7 linked regions of the Homo sapiens genome follow. The protein of the gene in region 5 interacts with the protein of the main gene of each other region in a biochemical or structural test. Each region holds a gene or a part of one and is shown on either strand. Other genes may lie near its edges.

The links.
Region 1: the proteins of CREBBP (region 5) and NUP98 form a complex in vitro, tested with the Homo sapiens proteins (2 studies listed by BioGRID).
Region 2: the proteins of CREBBP (region 5) and SMAD3 form a complex in vitro, tested with the Homo sapiens proteins (3 studies listed by BioGRID, with this or other methods).
Region 3: the proteins of CREBBP (region 5) and FOXO4 form a complex in vitro, tested with the Homo sapiens proteins (2 studies listed by BioGRID).
Region 4: the proteins of CREBBP (region 5) and GTF2B form a complex in vitro, tested with the Homo sapiens proteins (2 studies listed by BioGRID).
Region 6: the proteins of CREBBP (region 5) and ATF1 form a complex in vitro, tested with the Homo sapiens proteins (2 studies listed by BioGRID).
Region 7: of the proteins of CREBBP (region 5) and ZNF106, one has a biochemical effect on the other in vitro, tested with the Homo sapiens proteins (2 studies listed by BioGRID, with this or other methods).

The regions. Positions count from the first base shown.
Region 1 is NC_000011.10:3,700,055-3,703,554, forward strand, and holds part of NUP98 (nuclear pore complex protein Nup98-Nup96 isoform 1 precursor), read right to left. Parts: intron 2,839-3,500; coding exon 2,409-2,838; intron 786-2,408; coding exon 556-785; intron 1-555. UniProt on the Homo sapiens protein: Plays a role in the nuclear pore complex (NPC) assembly and/or maintenance. NUP98 and NUP96 are involved in the bidirectional transport across the NPC. May anchor NUP153 and TPR to the NPC.
Region 2 is NC_000015.10:67,072,102-67,075,601, reverse strand, and holds part of SMAD3 (mothers against decapentaplegic homolog 3), read right to left. Parts: intron 1-3,500. UniProt on the Homo sapiens protein: Receptor-regulated SMAD (R-SMAD) that is an intracellular signal transducer and transcriptional modulator activated by TGF-beta (transforming growth factor) and activin type 1 receptor kinases.
Region 3 is NC_000023.11:71,098,851-71,101,441, reverse strand, and holds part of FOXO4 (forkhead box protein O4), read right to left. Parts: intron 759-2,591; coding exon 1-758. UniProt on the Homo sapiens protein: Transcription factor involved in the regulation of the insulin signaling pathway. Binds to insulin-response elements (IREs) and can activate transcription of IGFBP1.
Region 4 is NC_000001.11:88,881,568-88,885,067, forward strand, and holds part of GTF2B (transcription initiation factor IIB), read right to left. Parts: intron 1-3,500. UniProt on the Homo sapiens protein: General transcription factor that plays a role in transcription initiation by RNA polymerase II (Pol II). Involved in the pre-initiation complex (PIC) formation and Pol II recruitment at promoter DNA.
Region 5 is NC_000016.10:3,727,634-3,730,713, forward strand, and holds part of CREBBP (CREB-binding protein), read right to left. Parts: intron 2,242-3,080; coding exon 85-2,241; 3' UTR 1-84. UniProt on the Homo sapiens protein: Acetylates histones, giving a specific tag for transcriptional activation. Mediates acetylation of histone H3 at 'Lys-18' and 'Lys-27' (H3K18ac and H3K27ac, respectively).
Region 6 is NC_000012.12:50,818,882-50,821,662, reverse strand, and holds the end of ATF1 (cyclic AMP-dependent transcription factor ATF-1), read right to left. Parts: intron 2,029-2,781; coding exon 1,884-2,028; 3' UTR 501-1,883; downstream 1-500.
Region 7 is NC_000015.10:42,484,642-42,488,141, forward strand, and holds part of ZNF106 (zinc finger protein 106), read right to left. Parts: intron 1-3,500. UniProt on the Homo sapiens protein: RNA-binding protein. Specifically binds to 5'-GGGGCC-3' sequence repeats in RNA. Essential for maintenance of peripheral motor neuron and skeletal muscle function.

The sequences.
Region 1 (3,500 bases), on a different chromosome or scaffold from region 5:
ATTTAGAAAAGCAAGAAGGGGCCGGGCTCGATGGCTCACGCCTGTAATCCCAGCACTTTGGAAAGTCGAGGCAGGCAGATCACGAGGTCAAGAGATCGAGACAATCCTGGCCAATATGGTGAAACCCTGTCTCTACTAAGAATACAAAAATTAGCTGGGTGTGGTGGCGCGCGCCTATACTCCCAGCTACAGTGACAGAGTGAGACTCCGTCTCAAAAAAAAAAAAAAAAAAAAAGTAAAGCAAGAAGGAATGTATTTCTCTCCCTATGTTCTCTGGATTAGGTAAGAAATTCAATTTTATAAATCCAAGGATTTGACTTGCTACAGTTCTTTGTGGAAGAATTTGTACATTAATGGGTAAAAGAACAAAGTGACAAGAACATAGTGACAATTTCTTCTTGCTTGGGAATCTGCTTAGTTAAACTCAACCTCAGAAAATGACAAGCACAGGCATTTACCTACTAGACTGGTGCCAGGAAATTCATCCTCCCGTGAACATACGCTACCACCACTATTATTGGGACATCAAACATTAGAAACATAGTGTGTACTCACTTTGTGCTTCTGGTAAGTCTCCTGATGCTTCTTTAACCCAATCTGCATAGTCATGAATGACAGCAACTCCCAGATTGGGGACAATGAGAGGACACAGTTCATCCACATGGACAGTGCTGTGTTTTAATTTGAGCTCCAGAGGTGTCTGATATAATTTCATGTCTTCATCTGGCTTTCTTTGTCTCAAACTGAGTTTTTCTAAGTGAACTTTGAATGGGGACTCAGTTAGGCTACAAGAGCAAATGAGGAATAGAATAGAAAATGAACCTAAGACAGAAGCTAGGATTTTTACTTCAACCAAACCACTGTTTCTTTTTATGATTACAAACGGAATGCAAACATTTCACTGTAGTTTTAAAGAAATTTTGTTTCTTAAACTATACTGAACTTATCTGCTATATACTGGGGAAAAAAAATCATCTGATCAGTGCATTCAGAACACAAAGGCTTCTTAGGCCAGGTTATAACAAGCATGAGAATCCTAACAGATTTAGAACTGGCTAAAACTCAAGGGCCAAAAGCTATTGTGGGATACCTGTTTCTCAAATTATACTTGGGTATCAAAAGTCATGAGGCTAAGCTTCTAGATACTAAAGAACTGATTCTAAATTACAATGAGCATATAGCTAAGCTAGGCTTGTTCCAATTTTTTTTTTTTTTTTTTTTTTGAGATGGAGTTTCACACTGTCGCTGAGGTTGGAATGCAGTAGCGTGATCTTGGCTTACTGCAACCTCTGCCTCCTGGGTTCAAGGGCGATTCTCCTGCCTCAGTCTCCTGAGTAGCTGGGATTACAAACATGCACCACCACCCTGGGCTAATTTTTGTAATTTTAGTAGAGACAGGGTTTTACCATGTTGGCCAGGCTGGTCTCGAACTCCTGACCTCAAGTGATCCTCCCAAAGTGCTGGGATGACAGGTGTGAGCCACCGTACCCGGCCCCTTGATCTAATTTTTAAGATTGATATTAATAACCTTCAAAATTCACAAGATAATGCTTAACCTAGAATAACTAAGTTTAGGATCAGTATTCTTAATTGTGAGGTTCAAGAGACATTGTTGTTTTTTCTTTTTCTTTTCTCTCTTTTTTTTTTTTGAGACTGAGTCTCATTCAGTTGCCCAGGCTAGAGTGCAATGGCGCGATCTCAGCTCACTGCAAGCTCCGCCTCCCGGGTTCACACCATTCTCCTGCCTCAGCCTCCTGACTAGCTGGGTCTACAGGCGCCTGCCACAACGCCCAGCTAATTTTTTTTGTATTTTTAGTAGAGACAGAGTTTCACCGTGTTAGCCAGGATGGTCTCAATCTCCTGACCTCGTGATCCGCCCATCTTGGCCTCCCAAAGTGCTGGGATTACAGGTTGTTTTTTATTTTTTCAAAGTCAACTTTAAAAATGAAGGATAGGCTGGGCAAGGTGGCTCATGACTGTAATCCCAGCACTTTGGGAGGCCAAGGTAGGACAATCACTTGAGCTCAGGAAACATTAGCTGGGTGTGGTGGCGTGTGCATGTAATCCCAGCTTATCAGGAGGCTGAGGCAGGAGAAGAGCCTCAGACTGAGAGGCAGAGGTTGCAGCAAGCTGAGATCGTGCCACCGCACCCCAGCCTGGGAAACAGAGCAAAACTGAGACTCAAAAACACACACACACACACCGGGGAAACAGAGCAAAACTGAGACACACACACACACACACACACACACACACACACTCTCTCTCTCTCTCTCTCTCTCTCTCTCTCTCTCTCTCTCTCTCTCTCTCTCTCTAGAAAGATGACAAAGCAGGGCCCTATCCTCCTGATTAGTTTTTTTCACCTATCATGTTGCCTTTCTCAAAAAGCATCAAGAAATGTGACTCACGGTTTAACAGCTACTGGATTGGGCAGGAATCCAAACTCCATGGAATCGGCAATCTGATGATTTTCTAGTTCATGAGAGCCATTCAGCTGTTCTCCACTATTAGCAAGAGTCCAGTTGGGGCCCCAACCAACACGAAATGAGCGTCCCATGAATAGGGCCATGTCCATCAAGAGTTTTCCCTTGCCATAGGTGACAGACTTTTCACGAGGGACTAGGCCTAGTTGCCTACGTGTACCCACTGTTTTCAACGGAACCTCAGGGGCTGGGCTGGGCATTGTGAACACAGAAGTCAGGGGTGGAGGGACAGACCAAGAGGATGTGGATGGGATATTCATTAAAGATGCTGCTCTGGGAGTACGACATTCTTGCACAGAGACACTTGGTGAAAGAAAAGCTCCACTTGTAAATTTTGATTGTAGTAACCCACCAACTGAAATGAAGCGGGAATGAAGGGGAGAAAGACTATTACAAAACACAAGCTATTGTTTCTTGAACAATAACAAAAATCAGTAAGGCTGAAATCATTCAATGTTTAATCAAACTACTTATATCAGATGTGGATGACCAGAAGCAGGCTAAGTCAGATTTTGCAGAAATTACTCTTTGAACTAGGAAATCAGGACAAGATTCTAATGATGATGATGATATCTACAACAATAATAAAAGCAACAACACTATTAATATTATTTAAAAATATGCAGCAGGCTCTGTATAAGTCATTTGTATATGTTATTTCATTTCACTCTTCAAAAACTTTTTTTTTTTTTTTTTGGAGACAGAGTCTCGCCCTGTAGCCCAGGCTAGAGTGCAGTGGCATGATCTTGGCTCACTGCAACCTCTGCCTCCTGGGTTCAAGCAATTCTCTGCCTCAGCCTCCCGAGTAGCTGGGATTACAGGTGCCCGCCACCATGCCTGGCTAACTTTTCTGTATTTTTAGTAGAGACAGAGTTTCACCATGTTGGCCAGGCTGGTCTTGAACTCCTGACCTCGTGATCCACCTGCCTCAGCCTCCTAGAGTGCTGCAATTACAGGCATGAGCCACTGCACTTGGCCTCAAAAACTTTTAAATGATTAGCATTATTATCATTCCTA
Region 2 (3,500 bases), on a different chromosome or scaffold from region 5:
TCATCCTCATTTTACAGATGCAGAAACTGGGGCTCAATAAGTTGAAGCAAAGTACCCAAGGTCACCACATAGCTAATAACTGTCAGACTCAAACCCAAACCCATCAGACTTGAGAGGCTTTGCTCTTTCTGCCCAACTGTGCTCTTCCTGTCCTCCCCCTCTCCTGCTCCCCAGGTAATATGTGAAGAACCTGTCTGGGTAGAGACAAACAGCCACACACAAAATGTAAAGGGTTGGCACAACAAGCAGTAATTCACTCTGCCTTCCCATGGGCTGGGAGAAATTAGACCCACCTTGAGTCTGACTTCAATAAGGGTAAGAAAAAGTTTACAACCAGGAAGATTTGAAGCAAAAGGAAAAACCCAATTTCCATCACCAGTGCCTGCTTTCAGCCACTTGTAACTACTCAAAAAGTCCTTTCTGGATTCATTACTCCACATTTGGGCTTAGCCCAGAGGTGATTTTTTAAGGAAAAAATGCCTTTTGGCATTTTTGAGCAGTGACAGCGTAAAAACAGACCTTTAAAAAACACACACCCAAAAAGCATTACTATTTTCAAATGTCCAGTTGAAAAGAAAAAAAAAATGGTGACACCTCAGAGTTACAACTTGGCTTGGCAGTTTGTGATGCAACACTTAGCAGCAAAAGGGACCAGATTCATAACTCTGTAGGTTTCAAAGGCAAAGCCATACACAGTGTTTCTTAATACTGGAGTCCTACCCCATCTCTACTAAAAATACAAAAATTAGCTGGGCATGGTGGCGGGCGCCTGTAGTCCCAGCTACATGGGAGGCTGAGGCAGGAGAACTGCTTGAACCTGGGAGGCGGAGGTTGCAGTGAGCTGAGATCACGCCACTGCACTCCAGCCTGGGCGACACAGCAAGACTCCGTCTCAAAAAACAAAAAAAGAGAGAGACAGAGATAAAGAAACAAACAAACAATACAATACAATACTGGAGTCCTAAACTACCGGCAAAGCACTCAAGAGAAAAACTTGCCAGATGTAAGCTGGGAGAGCCATGTGATACTGAAAAAGAACTATTTAGGAGGAAACTCACTTTTCATTTCCTAGTTGGGGTTTAAACTTGCAACATCCACGCTGCCTAACAAAAGGCTCATGCTTACGCAATCAAGTGCAGCCTTTCTTTATATAGATGCTTGGAAATAAATAAAGGAAGCTTCCTGGGTAAACTTTGACATATGAGCAAACATTTTCCACAGGTATCCTCTATAATGCCTACCTCTTACATTTAACCATTTTTAGGCATCTGTGGTCATTAGTTTAAGTAAACTTCCTGTTCTTAGAATAGTCAAAAATAGCAACAAAAGAAGAAAAACTGTTCACTGCATCTCAAGAGGCACAGCCTCCACATCTTCATCCTAGCATTATTTTCATATTCCTTTGTAGTTAAATTTCACTGATTTAGACTCACAGAGTAAGGAAGAGGCAAGGAAGAGGGAGGGAAATCACCAAAATTAAAGGCTGAATTACAATTTTATTATTTTTACTTATGTAAATTAATTGACACCAGGCTGATAGAGTCTTGGAACATCAATAATTAAGAAAGATCTGTCATTCACTGATCAACTAGATGCGTGCAACTGGGAGCTTTTAAAATGTTTGTATGTGGCCGGGCGCGGTGGCTCAGGCCTGGAATCCCAGCACTTTGGGAGGCCGAGGCGGGCAGATCACTTGAGGCCAGGAGTTGGAGACCAGCCTGGCCAACATGGCGAAACTGGTCTCTGATAAAAATACAAAATTAGCCGGGTGTGGTGGCACATGCCTGTAATCCCAGCTACTCAGAAGGCTGAGGCAGGACAATCACTTGAACCTGGGAAGCGGAGGTTGCAGTGAGGCAAGACCGCGCCATTGCACTTTAGCCTGGGCAACAAGAGCGAAACTCCATCTCAAAAAATAAAATAAAATAAAATAAAATGCTTGTATGAATACCAATTCCAAGTTAGAAAGGCCCTCCAATAGAGTTTATCTAGCCTATTTTCCAGTTGAGAACATTCGAGGCCCAAAGAAGGTGACTTGTCCCAGGTCACACAGCTAATCAGAAACAGAGCCACGTCTAGAACCTACCAAGGTCTGCTGACTCCTACCTCCAAAATAATCCCCAAACTCTTGTTTATTAATTTTTCTTTGACAGCATTTATGGGGCAAAAAGGCCTGCTAAACAAACTTTTGCCTAGTCCAGAATTAGCCAAACTTCTTAATTAATAGGCTTCTACTGTGTTTTCATTTTAAACTGAGTCTCTGCCAAAACATTCTACAGCAGTTGCCACTGTGGCAGGCTGCTGTTTATAGGAAGGGTCTTAGATAACCAACAGTGGATAGTATGCTATAGATTTGTTTATTTCTCAAACTGTTAAGTCGAAACAAAGGATTATGTTATACAGAGAGAAAGAGAAAGAGAGAGAGAGATCCTTGTCAAGTCAATAAACTGCAGAGCTTGGGGGATGTGGTTTGGCACCAAAAAAACAGTATTTACAAATTAGCTAAAGAGTGAACACATACAGCATTCTTACAACTCCAAAGAACCTGTGTTTCACAGCCAGTGGACTAGAAGCTACAGAAGGCACCAGGGACAGTATCTGCCTTATTCACTATTTTGTCCGCATTATCTGGCACAGAAATTAGCACCTGGTACGGCATTAAAGGAAGGCATAAAAATGAACTGGACAAGTTCTCTTGGAATTGTCTCGGTTCTAAAGCTTAGAACACAGTAAAATTAGAAACCAAACTTCTGTAGGGTGGGCTTAGGATGGCAACTTCCCACTGTTTCCAGGAACCATTGTGCTTGAAGATGGGAAGACTGAAGGCTCCATGGCTCAGGGACTTGTCAGAGGCCAACAGAAGGTCATACCCCTCCTTAGGGAGGAGTTAGTCCCATCCAACACTGCACCAGCCATTCACGTCTGCACATGGCTGGTGAACTTCCACCCCCTGCACATTCAGCAGGCTGCCATCATGAGCAGCCTTCTTGGGCAGTTCTCTTGCCAGCCAACCAACACTATGAGATGGGGATTTGGGGGAGGGAATGGAGTCTTTAAGTTTTGCTTTTGTTTTAATCAGTCAATATGGCAAAGGAGAAAAGGGCAAAAGTCAATTAGGACTATTGATGAGACTTGCTGATTAAGAAAACTGCATTCCAATCTTAGAGAACTTAATTGCAATTACAGGAAGCTGAAGGAGAGGTGAATAAAGGTGGGAGAATAAGGTTAACAGGAATGAAAGCTGATTCCAATTTGAAGCAAGCCCTGCTTGGTCTTATTTATTTCATTAAGGAGCTCACGCAGAATAATGGCTGTACTGTGCATCAAATGGCATTAAAATCTCCTAATAAATTAACAAGTAAAAATTAATGGTCGCTCAGTTCATTAAATCGTGTTAATTTTATTCCATTATAATAATACAGCAATCACATGTTTACATTATTAAACCAATATTTATTTTTTAACTCATTTAGTTGGATTCCTGATGTGATAAGCTTGAA
Region 3 (2,591 bases), on a different chromosome or scaffold from region 5:
GAAGGAAGCCCCCCCAGCAACAGAAGAGTCGGAGCCTGGGACAGAATGGGATCTACCTGGGTCATGAGGACGTCAGCAGGGGGTGGTGGCGTATCAGAGGTGAGCAGGGCCTCCAGAGCCTGGGAGCTGGAGAAGCACCCTTCTCCTGCTGACAGGGGCCCCTCTGCTGGGCTGAAAAGGGAGCTGCTGTAGGTGTGTAAGGGGCCGGTAACCCCAGGATGCTGCAAAGAGAAGCCAGAGAGACCACTCCGAGATAGCAGGGAATGGGAAGAGGTGAGATTGAGCCCATCTAACAGCTCTAGACCTTCATTGAGGGTGGGAGGGACACCCCCTGCATAACTGCTGACTGAAGCTGGTATTTCCTCCGCCAGCACCTCAGACTCTGGCCTCAAGGGGGACAGCCGGGTGCTGACACTGCTGGCATTTGAACTGCTTCGTGGACGGAAGGTGGTCCACATATCGGCTTCTTCACGGTTTCGAGAGCAAGGGCTGCCTGACCACTTGGCAAAGTGGCCGACAGGGCTCGTTGGAGTGGCACCTTCGGGTGGAGCTGGCAGCACAGATGGTTTCTTCTTGGGGGCTTTACTGCGGCCCCGGAGCAGCTTGCTGCTGCTATCCATGGAGGCGGCCCGGCGGCGGGGGGCTTTGCCGCTCTTGCCTCCCTCAGGGTTCAGCATCCACCAAGAGCTTTTGCCGGTGGCCTCGTTGTGAACCTTGATGAACTTGCTGTGCAGGGACAGGTTGTGGCGGATCGAGTTCTGGAGGGGCAGAGATGGCAGGAAAGGGGCGTGAGGTACTGTAGGGGAGGTCAGTGGCCAGCGGTCAAGTCTAAGAGGATGCTGGACCCTGATGATCTAGGGTTTAGGATTTGGTGCCACCACCGCAGCAGGGTTCATTTCGGGGCTTCATTTCCCAGGTCATTAAAGTTTAAGAAAAACTTTAAATAATTTACAAAAAAAGAGAAAAAGATAAAAGATAAAAGGGTGCTGGAACACAGCAGGGGTATTCCTGGAGACTCAAAGAAAGTTGAATCCAGGGGGGAAAACTGGTAGAAGTAGGGGTGGGGGTGGGGTGTGAGGGGAGACCACACACATTTCCCGCTCCCAGACAAGCTGCTCAGCCTCTGCTCCAGACTTCTCTGTACAGCGGGTGGGAGATAACGTGTAATAATCCACTGCAGAGAGCACGGGGGATGCCCACCCTGGAAAAGCTCCTGGTACTCTGCTCTTCCCAGGGCTTCGTGTGTGTTTTGCGGGGGGTGGGGGGAGCGGTACCTGGGGCTGGTGGGCACTGGGGAGACGTGCTCCTTGCCCAGCAAGAACTAGGTTCAGGTGGGAAAGAGCATTGCACCCCTTTCCTTGAGTGCAGGTTTGGGTAGAGTTTACGGGACAGTGGTACAGCACCAGCCCAGGATGGACCCGCCCTGCCCAGAGCCAGTTCTCTGAATAGGCTGAAGGGCTGGAATCTCAGCACAGCAGGTGCTCCATTCCCCACAGAGCATTTGGGCCACCCAGCTCTCTATAGAATTTAAAGATTCCTTTTTCCCCCCTCCCTGAATCCCAGCCTTATTTCTTCCAATCCACAACACACATCCTCAACTACATTCAGTTCAGGTTCAGGCTTCCTGCTGTGCCTCAAATGCGTGAGGTGCAATCTTCCCCTCCCCTCTTTTCCGAGGAGGGATCTCCCCTCTCTAAGTTTTACTAGTTCCGTCAAGACCAAGCTTCAGTTCCACCTCTTTTATAAAGCGGCTGCTTGACTTTGGCAGCCAAATTTCTAGTATAGTATTTTTAAAATCTGCGCCACACAATTTCACCCAATTTATATTGTGTGGCTTATGGTTTCATGTAATTCGTCTCATCGAGTGTAAGTGCCAAGTGTAATGTCCTCCAGTCCCACATCCCCCATCAAAGCCCTCCCAGAGCACCAAGCTCACAGCACATATTCTATACCTACTCAAGCTCACAGTACATAATCAATATTTGTACCTGATTGGTGGGTTGCCCCTGGGTTGACAATGGTGAGGCTCCCCTTGAGGCTCTGCCAGCTCTTCAGTGCCTTGGGTATTGGAAGCTGTATGTTTTCCCTTCCTCCCTCACTGGTGACATTCTACTAGGGAAACGATGCTTTCCAGTGGCCCAGGGAGCTGAGATTGGCAGCTTCTTCAGCCCCCAGTGCAGCTTATATTTACTGATTGCCGCGGGGCAGGCTAGTTACACAAGGGGTTTGGCCCTCCCCTGGCCACCCCCCTTCCCGAAACCTGCCTTCTTTTCCCTACCTCCTTCCCAGTGCCTTTCCCCCATTTCTCAGGAATTTGTGCATAAACTCTTCAACCTTGGGGGCATTTGACCTCCCACTTGGAGGTCTTTAGTTTAGAAATTCAGGAGGAGCCCAGAAGTGCTTAGAGCAACTAGGAGGCTGAGTACATGGGACGGTCAGAAACTACTTGTTTCTCTGACTGGTGCTCTTAAGATAAGGAGCACCTTTGCCTGGGGAATGATGCTTCTTGTTCCAGGGTTCTTTAGCCAAAGAACTCCTTGTGTTCCTGGGACCCTGAGGTAATGGCATTTCAACTGTGCTGATGTTCCTTC
Region 4 (3,500 bases), on a different chromosome or scaffold from region 5:
TCTTCTACACCTGCCCTTGTTTGGTAATGGAATGGATTCTTCGCTTACAAGATATATTACACATTTAACCACAAATATCTATGAATGAGCCTACCGTATATTTTAAAATAAGTGTTGGTTATATTTTATGTTAGAAGAATCAGTATCAAAAAGAAATACTGTCATATATTATAGAAAGTAAGTTTTATTGGATATGTTTTTCAGATCTCAAGATTTAACATGGTGTTTGATACTAGTAAGTCAATAAAAGCAAAAACAAAATTAACTTCCTTTGGTTTGATATAGCAGAAAAGTACAAGCAAAAATTAGGAATTCCAAGCACAAGAAAGCATACAAGTCTTGTGAATTGTATCTTCCTTTTTCAGTTGATTAATCTCCACTGTCTTGCTGGTTAAAGTGGAAGTGAGGCTGGTGGGAAGGCTGAAAATATAATGGGATACTTTTACATTATTTAAAAATGGGCCAGGTGCCATAGCTCACGCCTGTAAACTCAGAACGCTGGGAGGTCGAGGCAGGTGGAACACTTGAGGCCAGGAGTTTAAAACTAGCCTGGACAACGTGGTGAAACCCTGTCTCTACTAAAAATACAAAAATTAGGTGGGTGTGGTGGTGCATGCCTGTAATCCCAGGTACTCAGTAGGCTGAAGTACAAGAATCGCTTGAACCCCGGAGGCAGAGGCTGCAGTGAGCGGAGATCGTGCCACTGCACTCCAGCCTGGGGGACAGAGGGAGACTCTCACTCCAAAAAAAAAAAAAAAAAAAAAAAAAAACGCTACAGAGGTTAGGAGAGCTAAGAAGCTGAAATTATCTTCAATCTCATGTATGTCTGTCTCACTCGTACACATTATCAGTTTGATCTTAACACTGTGGAAGAACTGGAAGGCTCTCATTTAACTGAAGGGTTAAGCAAACATTTTCTGTAAAGGGTGACATAGTAAGTATTTTAGGTTTTGTGGGTCAAGAGGCAAAATTCAGGATATTAAGTAGGTACTTACATGTCTACTAATGAGGAAAATAAAATTCTCTTTTGGGGATCACATTTCACTTAATTGGAGTTCAAAGTTAATGTTCTCTATCAAAATCAATGACAAATGTTCATGTGTCAATGATGTTGTGTTAACAAGATTTTATGTATTTCACTTTCTTTTCGCATAGACAAGTAATGCCAAATACCGATATTAATCCACAAGTGTATGATTTTAATTGAGCATATTTATTGCTTGGAAGGCATTCATAGAATTGTATTACATTCTTCTCCTGATAATGGCCTTTTAACATACTGTTACACTGCAGATTAGTCACTACCAACTGAAGGTTAGATGGAACCCCCTTAACTGTACAGTGAAAACAAATTTTGAAATATGAAAATTTCCTTTGCATTTGCATTCAAGTCTGAAAAACACTGCTGAAAATATAGCTTGAGCCTGGAAAATATATCTGCTGCAAATCTATGTGGTAATGAACATCCTATTTTAACTTCTGACACCACTGGAAGTATATAAAGTATATAAAAGCAATTTGACATTACTTATGATTCAAATGTTAACTTGTGAAATTGACTTTACTGCACTTTATGTTTCACAGAAAAGCAGTATTTTGCCTTGTAACTCTATGATGAATTCATTAAGACATATTAGCAAGTTTGCAGCAAAAGCTAATTTTCAAAACCATCCAGTGTTCAACAGCAGTAGCCGAAGGCAGTACTGATTCAGAAAAATCTTACTCTTGGCCCCGAGTTCAGAAAAATCACAACAAAACTTTGCTACTGCTAAGTCACCAGATTAGTGTGTCATTAAGACAAGTCACCCTAACAGTATTTTGTTAGAAATATTCAGCTTCTATTTCTAACAAAATGTCACAAAACTGGCTGAGCATGATAGCTCACACCTATAATCCCAGCACTTTGGGAGATCAAGGCAAAAAGATCACTTGAGGCCAGGGTTCAAGACTAGTCTGGGCAACGCTGTGAGACCCTATCTGTACCAAAAAAAAAAAATTAGCCAGGGTCCTGCTTGAGCCCAGGAGTTGAGGCTGAAGTGAGTCATGATCGCACCACTGCACTCCAGCCTGAGAAACAGAGTGAGACTCTGTCTCAAAAAAAAAGTCACAGAACTGATATTGATAGTTACGTGCACAAGAGTGAATGAAGTTCATTGTTCACAATTACTGGTTAAATAACACAAGGTAGATTAAAGTCTTCTCTAACAAAGTACTGCTGATGAATAATGTAATAGGCTTTTTAAACACCTTACGTTTTCAATCTTGGCAAATCTGTTCCACTAAGTCTTCTGCTCCACATATTTTTACCCTTATCAGTTATAATAAATCTTAGCAGATTCCACCTCAGGTTATACTGAATTAACACTTTTGCAACTGCTTTGAAGCTATTTTCTCCTATAGCTGTTCCATGTAGACTACTCACTGGAGCTAGTTCTTCTGTCAAGCTCAGCACTGACTTTTTTTTTTTTTTTTTTTTTTGAGACAGAGTCTCACTCTGTCACTTAGGCTGGAGTGCAGTGGTGCAATCTCGGCTCACTGCAAACTCCGCCTCCCAGGTTCAAACAATTCTCTGCCTCAGCCTCCCGAGTAAGCTGGGATTACAGATGCCCACCACCACGCCCGGCTAATTTTTGTATTTTTAGTAGAGATGGAGTTTCACCATCTTGGCCAGGCTGGTTTTGAACTCCTGAACTCATGATCCATCCGCCTCAGCCTCCGAAAGTGCTGGGATTACAGGCGTAAGCCGCTGCACCTCGCCCAACACTGACTTCTTGAATAAACAACTGCAAAGCAGCAATAACATTGATCTAGTCATCAAGAGCCAAGGAAAAATATACCTGAGCTAATTTGCCTTAACTTTTAATTGACTACTGATGTTGCTCCACTGTCCTCAACTCTTCAAGCAACTGTTCTTGGTGAGATGCTAACAGTCTTAAATAAATTTATTTTCTCTGCATACATTTCTTCAGCTGTTGCAATCAAATATGAATTAACCTATCATTGGTAAATGGCTTTCCTTGCTTGGCCAAGAAATAAGCCACTTAGAAACTTTAGTTGCAGCCTCAGTTTCATTCTTTTATTTTTGTGAAAAAATTCTGTTGTGTTAAGATATTCTATTTTACATTATTTTCTGACCATTGTTTTCCTGAGTTAGAAATATTCTGATGAGTGCTCAGTATGGTAATGTCCACGCTTACTGTATTCTTTTAACACAGCTACAGTATCATTGTGTAATAAACACAATGTTTTGCCATCTAATTCAGTGACAAAATAATCCATACTCCACCATGCCTTAAAAGCATGACATTCAAAGTTAACTTTTCTTGTTTTGGTGTGATGGATATGTAATGGTAATAAAAACAAATAAATAAAATAGTGCAGTATGGCAACATATGTGGCGATCAACATGTTGCTGTTATAACTGCATCACTGCAATTAGTATGCTGAGCAGCAGAAAAAAAGTGATGAGAGCTGCACATGTGGTTTCTGTTGAAGCTACT
Region 5 (3,080 bases):
AGGAATAAAAAGAACCTAGATGCCTGGATTTTCAGTACAAAAGGTCCAAGAACATGAAAGGGAAAAGGTGATGCTCTCACAATGCTACAAGCCCTCCACAAACTTCTCTAGCGTGTCCCCCGTGGTGTCCCCGACCAGGGACAGTTCGCTGGACAGCGCACTCCTGCTGGGGGTGTTCAGCTGGGGGAGCATTGCACTCTGTTCGGGGTTCCCCAAGTGTCCCTGATCTATGGAGCTGGCCATGGTGACTGCGAGTCCGGGGTGGGGGGAACCAGTCTGGGGTGAGACGTGGTGTGGCGAAGGCTGGGGCTGTATCCGTGGTGACGGGCTGGAATGTGGAGGCTGGGACTGGGGCCGTGGAGACTGGACAGGGGCTGGAGACCGCACCTGGTTACTAAGGGACGTGGCGATCTGCTGGCCAGGGAGATGCGAGGCCTGTGGCTGTCCTGAGAGCATGTGTTGCTGGGGGCTCATGGGGTTCGGCTGGCCTGGGGACCCAATCTGCTGCTTCATCTGCTGTTGCTGCAGAATCCGCTGCTGCAGGGCTTGCTGGATGTTGGGGGTGCTGTCTGCCCCCAGCCCCGGCTGCCCCATCTGGCCAAGCTGTCCCATCTGAGCCGCCATCTGGCCCATGGAGCTGCCCTGGAGGGGGAGATGCTGCTGCATGCGCTGCTGCTGCTGCATGGCCGGTGGGTAGCCTCCGGGTCCTTGAGGCTGCTGGAACTGGCCGTGCCCCGCCATGCCCCCAGCCATGCCGGCACTCCCTTGCTGCTGCTGCTGTTGCTGCTGTTGTTGCTGCTGCTGTTGCTGCTGCTGCTGCAGCAGCTGCCTCCGTAACATTTCTCGGTACTGTGGATTCATACTCGCCATGTTGGGGTTGTGTCCTGGGTTCATGATGTTCAAGGCCTGGCCCTGGGGGTTCAGGCCTCCCATCGCCTGCTGCTGTGGAGGCACACCGGGCCGCGGCACGCCAGCCTGCATGGCATTCAGGTTCTGCAGGCTGGGCTGCTGGTGCATGCCAGGCTGGGGTTGCATGCCGGGCTGGGACTGGAGGCCAGGCTGGGGCTGCATGCCGGGCTGATTGGCCACGTACTTGGCTGTGCGCTGTTTGATGAAAGCTGCCATTAGCTGCGGGTTTGATTTGAGAATGTTCAGCACCTGCTGTTGCTGCTGAGGGGAGCTGGGCGACTTCAGGGTCCGCAGCAGGTCTTGCAGAGCGCTGGGTGAGATGCTCCTGGGTGGCTGCACGCTGGGCATCCGGGGCCCAGCCACGGCCGCCTGGGCCTGCATGGATATCACAGGCCTGGGCAAGCCTGGCATGGGCTGCTGCTGGGGAAGGGGCGCCTGCTGCCACTGCCCGGGAGGCATGCTGGGCATGACGGGCCCGCTCACCTGGTTGGGTCGGGGCACATTCAGGCTCACGGGGGCCATCTGGCTCCCCGGGGTCCCCATGCCCGTGCGTCCTGGGGGCATGCTGTTGTTGATGTTCACCCGGTACAGGTGCTGCTGCTGCTGGGCCTCACGCTCGATCTGCCGAGCCGCTTCCACCGCTGCAGGAGGGGGCTGGGCCGGGGGTGGGGGGGCCGGCACCTGGCTGGTAGGCTTCCCTGTGGACACCGTGGTGGGGGGCTGAGTCCGGGCCACGCTGGGGAAGCCAGCTGGTGACATGCTCACGGGTGAGGGTTGGGGCTGGGCAGGGGGCTGCGGCGTCTGGGGTGTGCTGGGCTGCTGTGTGGGGGTCCCGGGCGGTGCTGAGGTAGGAGAAGGCAGACTCTGCTGAGGCACGTTGCGGGTGTTCATGGTGGCCATCCGCCGGCGCATGAGCTGGGCCTGCTGCAGGCGGTGCTGGATCTGCTGCTGGCGGAGCTTGTGTTTGATGTTGAGGCAGAAGGGCACGGGGCATTTGTTTTCTTGGCAGTGCTTGGCGTGGTAGCAGCAGAGGGCGATGAGCTGCTTGCACACCGGGCAGCCCCCGTTGGTCTTGCGTTTGCAGCCCTTGGTGTGCTGCACCACCCGCTTCATCTTCTGGCAGGATGGCAGCGAGCAGTTGGCGTTGCGGCACTGGCACGCGTGCACCAGCGACTGGATGCAGCGCTGGATGCTCAGCCGGCGTGACTCCTGGGGGCTCTTTGACTGTGGCTCGCCCTGGCTGCTGCCCTCGTCATCCAGGCCCAGCCCCCACTTCACCATCTTATGGGCATGGCTCTTCGTGTTATAGCAGTTGATGCAGAGGTCGTAGTCCTGCAAGCAAGGAAAGGGGACAGGCCGGTGTCAGCATGGGACCCAGTACCACCAGGCATCCTGGCTGCTTCCCTCCACCGCTAAGTCTGGGTCTGTGCCAGGAGACCCAGGCAGGATAGGAGACCCAGACAGGATGCGAGCACGGACAGGTGGGAGACCCGGACAGGGCGGGAGCACGGACAAGATGGGATCATGGACGGGATGGGATCATGGACAACATGGGATCATGGACAGGACGGGGGCATGGACTGCCTATGTGTTGCTCCCAAGGACCTTCACTCCTGGCAACAGCCCTGAAGGCTCAAAGATAACCTGACCCATGCCCCAAGAACCCCTGGCCTGTAAGCTCACGGACAGTAGACACCAGCCCCCTTCCTTCCGACTTCCTCTGACCTGGGAGTCACATCAGCCCTTGCCACAGCCTGTCCAACTCCTGTACTCAAACTATGAAGCCAGACAGTGAAAGGCTGAGGGAGGCCGGTCCCTCCCAAAGCGCCGACAGCTGCCGTGAAGTGCCTCTGGGAAGGCCTGAGCTATCCGCAGTGCACCAGTGGGACTTCCCCAACGCGCAAGCCCAAGTTACTGAAAACTGCTCGCACCTGGCAACCTGATGGAGCCCTAGGACCAGGTACCATGACTGTGTTCACAAAAAGATATGAAAACTGCCGCATTCAGAAACTAGAAAGAGGACAAAGGAGACTGGAGAAAGGTGGAAAGCGGAAGAAGTGTGTGAAGGTGGGGAGGGAAGAAAGGCCCTCGCTCTGCTGAGGACCCGCTCTGCCCCGCTACAGACACCACAGCAAGTGAGGAGGCTCCGGGTTGGCAGGTGATGGTGACTG
Region 6 (2,781 bases), on a different chromosome or scaffold from region 5:
ATTTATGGAACCATTAATGGTTTGCCCTGACCTGTTTCATACAGCTAGAGTAAGTAACTGGGTCTAGTTAGCAAGGCCCTACACCAGAAGTCTGAAGGCAGCAGAGTTTACAAATATTTGCAGATGTCCAGCTGTTAAGGCACTAAGAGCTAGGCTACCTCTGTTGTAAACAAGCACGGTGTCTACCCAATAATATATTATCATCTGTTGAAAAAGTCTTTTGACATAACCCAGTGACCTCATACCTCCTCATATTCTTAGGCCTAACGGGCCACCAGTTTGAGATTCTGGCTTTACACAAGGTAGTAAGTGATATAAGTAATCCCCCTGGCGATCAAACTTTTTTTTCTTTTCATAAAGTGCTGCCAAGTCAACAGAGTCCCATTTTAAAAGACCCTTCTAATGAGAAATTTCATCAGGAGGGTCAAACACAAATGTATCAGTTAAGTGAAGATTTCTACGTAGCATTAGGATAATTAACAGCATGGCCAGGAGCAAGCTTATCATTCATATACCAAGCATTATATTTTACATTCAGTAGACTATCAAATGTCCTTTAATTTCACAGACAACAATATGATGCATACTGTGTAAGAGCACACAATAGTTTTGCAGTACAATTTTAAACTGTATACAAATTGGAATATAGATGTTAAACGCTGGTGTACTGACAGTATTTTTGAATTTTAGATAAACTGCATACAAAATTTACAATGCAAATATTAGCCAATCTGAAAACGTCCCATAATATAAAAATGATACTTTGAGATGCAAATTTTACTAAACTATATAAACATTTAAAATAATCATTAAAAACTCAACATTAGAATTTATAAAGATCAGCTATAAAAATATATTGGCAGTCACTTTTCTTATAAAGGTACCACTCACTACATTACAAAATAGTCTCTAACATAAAATTGCCTTAATAACTATACTATTATAGAATCTGATAAACCTTACATTATTAAATTGATTATAAAATCTTCTTGGAAAAACTTTGGTATGTATCTTCAGAAGGTTTTTTAAAAATAATATTTTAAGGGCCTGTAAACATTCCATTCTATTAAAGCACAGCAGAATAAGTAATGGATATTCAACTGCATACAGAATATAGACTCAAAAAAACAATTTATTATGTATTTGTAGAAAATCATTACCAGAGTAAGCAAAAAAACCAACTATTTAAAAGTATCAAACTTTTAAACAGTTCTTTTTCCATTCTGATAAAAAATGTTATAAAATCACCATACTCCATTCATGTACCTTAGATGCCTTTTAGGATAAGACCTCAAAAATAATTAACCTAGTCTCAAAAATCCATTCAAGTCCAATAACAAACTTTTAAAAACCCACTTAAAAAGACTTGACACTAGAACAAGTATACATAATCAGAACATATACTTTATATATTTAGTAATGTACTAGGTTTTCTCTTACCTTTGTAATTTAGAATTTATTGGCAGAAATTACACACACACACACACATATATATAACTAAAAAAAGGTAAATTTCAGCAAACAAATGCAAACCTGTAGGGTAAATGGATTTTTAAAAAAAATTCAGTTTATCAAATTTCATCTTCTCTGCCATTTTAGATTGGCAACTATTGGTTATTTAGAAAATTTAGACTGCTGAAAGTTCATTTCTTGCTCCTTGAATATGTTTAATTTCTACAAAGCTTCCAGTTGTGCCCGTAGCTTCCTTGAGGTCATTTTCCACTTTCTCCTCTGTCACTAGATATCGTGCGTAAGATATTTATCCTTGATTTGGAAAAGCCTAAATAAAAAGCTTCAGTTTTGACCTTTTAATTTATAAAACTCCACTAGGAAATCCATTTAATTTTTATGCATGTCCACAAAAATATTTTCTTTCTTAGGAATCAAACACTTTTATTGGAATAAAGATCCTTCAAAGTTTTTAACTCTTCTATTAGAGTTTTATTTTGATTTTCCAGGACTGCAACTCGGTTTTCCAGGCATTTCACATATTCTTTCTTCTTTCTGCGACATTCTCGAGCAGCTTCTCTAAATATGAGCATTAAAAAAACAATGTTAGAAAAAACTTCACATTCTTTAAATGGTAAATGTTCTTCAGTAATTTTCCGTGGTCACCTTTTTTTCTCTTTAAAGTATCATCTACACACAGAGAATACATAGATCTTAAGTGTAGAATTCAGTCAGTTTTGGCAATTGTGTATACCTGTATAACCCACACCTCTGTCAAGACAACAGAACATTCCCACTGTCCCAGAAAGTTCCCTCATGCCCCTTCCTGGTCAGCCCCCTTCCAAGCAACTATCGTTTTGATTTTTATCACCAGAGATTAGTTTTTTTCCTATTCTAGAACCTCATGTAAGAGTGTCATACACTATGTACTCTGGTGTCCCTTCACTCAGCCCATCTGAGGTTCATCCATGTTGCTGCATGGGGGTTTGTTCCTTCACACTGCTGGACATAGTTCACTGTATGAATATAACCACCATTTGTGTATCCAGTCTCTTGCGATGTTTCTAGGGTTAGCTGCATAGGCATGTTTTTGTGCCAGTCTTTTTGTAGAAAGGTTTCATTTCTCTTGAATAAATACCAAAGAGTGAAATTATGGGTCCTCTGGTTAACTTCTGACACATGACTTCTTTTATTTAAGTTCAAATTACAAACAATGCTTGAGCAAATACTCAGTTCTGTGCATGTCCTCTTAAAACATTTCTGTGAAGTCATATGTAAGTTTATATACATATAGAAATCGGAAGTATTGGCCAGGCATGGTGGCTCATGCCT
Region 7 (3,500 bases), on a different chromosome or scaffold from region 5:
GCACGAGAATTGCTTGAACCTGGGAGGCAGAGGTTGCAGTGAGCCAAGATCATGCCACTGTACTCCAGCCTGGGTGACAGAGTGAGACTCTGTCTCAAAACAAACACAAACAGCATTGCTGTCTGCAATATAATTTCCCAAAATAGTGACCAACTCAATAATCTTTCTGAACTAAAGAAAGCACAGTCCCTTGATTTACACATTAACTATGCTTCAGGCAAAAAATACTCTGTGTTGACCAGGCGCGGTAGCTCACGCCTGTAATCCCAGCACCTGGGAAGCGGAGGCGGGCGGATCGGTAGAGTCCAGGAGTTCAAGACCAGTCTGGCCAACATGGCAAAACCCCGTTTCTACAAAAAAAAAATTAGCTGGGCTTGCATGCCTGTAATCCCAGCTACTCAGGTGGCTGAGACACAAGAATCACTTGAACCCAGGAGGCAGAGGTTGCAGTGAGCCAAGACCATGCCACTGCACTCCAGCCTGGGGGGTCAGAGTGAGACCTTACCTCAGAAAAACAACAACAACAAAAAAAATACTGTATGTTTATGTTAAACAAATTTGGTTTGAGGCTCAGATAATTATAAACAGATTTTTCACCTACATGAACATCTTCTGGGACATTAGAAAGTGATGCAAGGTTTATGTGTTCTCACCACAAAAACTTATAAGTAATACATATGTTAATTAGTTTCATCTAGCTATTCCACAAGGTACAGCAGGTCCTCAAAAAATGCTGTTTCATTCAATATCATGCTGTTACAACATTAATGAGAAAAAATAAATTACTTCCAGCTGAGGCCACTGTCCATGAAGACTTCGTATGTTCTCCTTATTCCTTCATGGGTTTCTTCCAGGTCTCCAGTTTCCTCCCACACCCCGAAGTAAGTGCCTGATAGGTGAACAGGGTGTCTAAACAGTCCCAGTCTCAGTGAGTGTGGGTGTGTGTGTGTGAGTACACCCTGGGATGGAATGGCGTCCTGTCCAGGGTTGGTTTCTACCTTGTAACCTTAGCTGCTTAGGATAGGCTCTGACCACCTGAACACTGAACTGGAATAAAGACGTTGGAAAATAAAAGAGTGGATAAATAAAAATTATTATAAAATAAAAATGTGTGACGTATGCACAACAATAAACAATGTGGTACGAAAGCACCCACCTGTCATATTTGTTGATTTTTAACCACATGGTAGTAGCCAGTGCTCCTTAAAATTTTCACTTTGGAAATATTTATTCCTTGATTTAGCCCACCACCAGTGGGACTGTGGTCACCCATTGATTTGCCAAAAATTAGGCAAATATCCTGTTTTTATTACTCTTTCTTTTTTTTTTTTTTTTGAGACGGAGTCTCGCTCTGTCGCCAGGCTGGAGTGTGGTGGCATGATCTGAGCTCACTGCAACCTCCACCTCCCGGGTTCAATCGATTCTCCTGCCTCAGCCTCCCGAGTAGCTGGGACTACAGGCGCATGTACCACCACACCCAGCTAACTTTTGTATTTTTTAGTAGAGATAGAGTTTCACTATGTTGACCAGGATGGCTAGATCCCTTGACCTCGTGATCCGCCCACCTCAGCCTCCCAAAGTGCTGGGACTACAGGCGTGAGCCACCGCGCCCAGCCCTTCTTTTTTTTTTCTTCCAGAGACAGGGGTTTGTTCTATCACCTGGGGTAGAGTGCAGGGGCATGATCATAGCTCACTGCAGCTTTGAACTCCTGGGCTCAAGTGATCCTTCCACCTCAGCCTCCCAAGTAGCTGGGATTACAGGTATACGCTACTATACTTGGTCAATTTTTAAAATTTTTTGTAGAGACAGGGTCTCGCTTTGAAGCCCAGGCTGATCTTGAACTCCCAGTTTCAAGTGTCCTCCACCTTGGCCTCCCAAAGTGCTAGGATTACAGGTATGAGCCACCATGCCCAAGCTACTCTTTTTTACATCTACGTATAGCTCACATTTATTTCAATGTTTAGTATTAGAAGTGTTTGGGGTCTTCATTTAGAAGTTTGGTGATGTTCTTGTGACCAGAAATATGCCATAGGAACTTAACTCTTTTTTATATCAATTAACCTGTGGCAAAATTAGTTTTGTTATTATGCTGTTTTGCTTAGAGTCACAGTTTCCAAGATCCTATTGATGTTAAGTGAGGACTTGTTATATATATATATGTCAAGGCACCATATTGTACACAATAAATACATATATTTTATTGCCAATTAAAAAATTAATTTTTTTGGCCAGGCACAGTGGCTCACGCCTGTAATCCCAGCACTTTGGGAGGCTGAGGTGGGGGGATCACCAGGTCAGGCATTTGAGACCAGCCTGGCCAACATAGTGAAACCCCATCTCTACTAAAAATACAAAAAATTAGCCAGGCATGGTGGCAGGTGCCTGTAATCCCAGCTACTCGGGAGGCTGAGGCAGAAGAATCGCTTGAACCTGGGAGGCAGAGGTTGCAGTGAGCAGAGATCGTGCCATCGCACTCCAGCCTGGGCAACAAGAGTGAAACTCCATCTTTAAAAAAATAAAATAAAATAAAATAAAAAAGCTTATAGGGAAAATATGGCCTGGATGCAGTGGCAGCACACTTATAATCCTAGCACTTTGGGAGGCTGAGGCAACAGAATCACTTGAGGCCAGGAGTTCAACACCATTCTGGGTGACACAGTGAGACCTCCTCTTCACACACACAAAAAATTTATTAATTAGCTGGGCATGGTGGCACGCACCTGTAGTCCCAGCTACTAAGAAGGCTGAGGTGGGAAGAGGATTGCTGGGGCCAAGGAGTTTGAGGGTGTAGTGAGCCATGATCATGCCACTGTACTTCAGCCTAGGTGACTGAGCAAGACCCTGTCTCAAAAAAAAAAAAAAAAAAAAAAAAGCTTTTAGGAAAAACTATTACTACCCCCTCCTGTTTCCTAGCCACCGCCACTTCCAGTCAGCCACTCTTGTGAGTTTCTTATTTGTTTTCCAGAGATATTTTTCAATTTTTTTGCATGAAAATACAAAACATAAAATTTACCATCTTAACCATTTAAGTGTAGTTTAGTGGTATTAAATACATTCATAATGTTGTACAACCAACACTACCATCCGTCTCCATAACTACTTGCATCTTGCATAACTGAAACTTTATATCCATTAAACAATAACTCATTTCCCCCTCCCTCAACCCCTAGCAACCACCATTCTACTTTCTGTCTCTATGATTTTGACTATCCTCCACAGAGGATATTCTATGCATATATGGTTGTCCCTCGATATCCATGGGGGATTGGTTCCAGGATCCCCCTCAATACCAAAATCTGAGAATGTTAAAGACCCTTATATGAAATGGCACAGTATATGCATGTAACCTACACATACCTTCCGTATACTTTAAATCATCTCTAGATTACATGTAAGACCTAATACAATGCCTACACATAACTTCATTTATGTGGATGCAATGTAGTATGTACTCAGCACGTAGCAAATTCAAGTTTTGCTTTTCAGAAATTTGTGAATT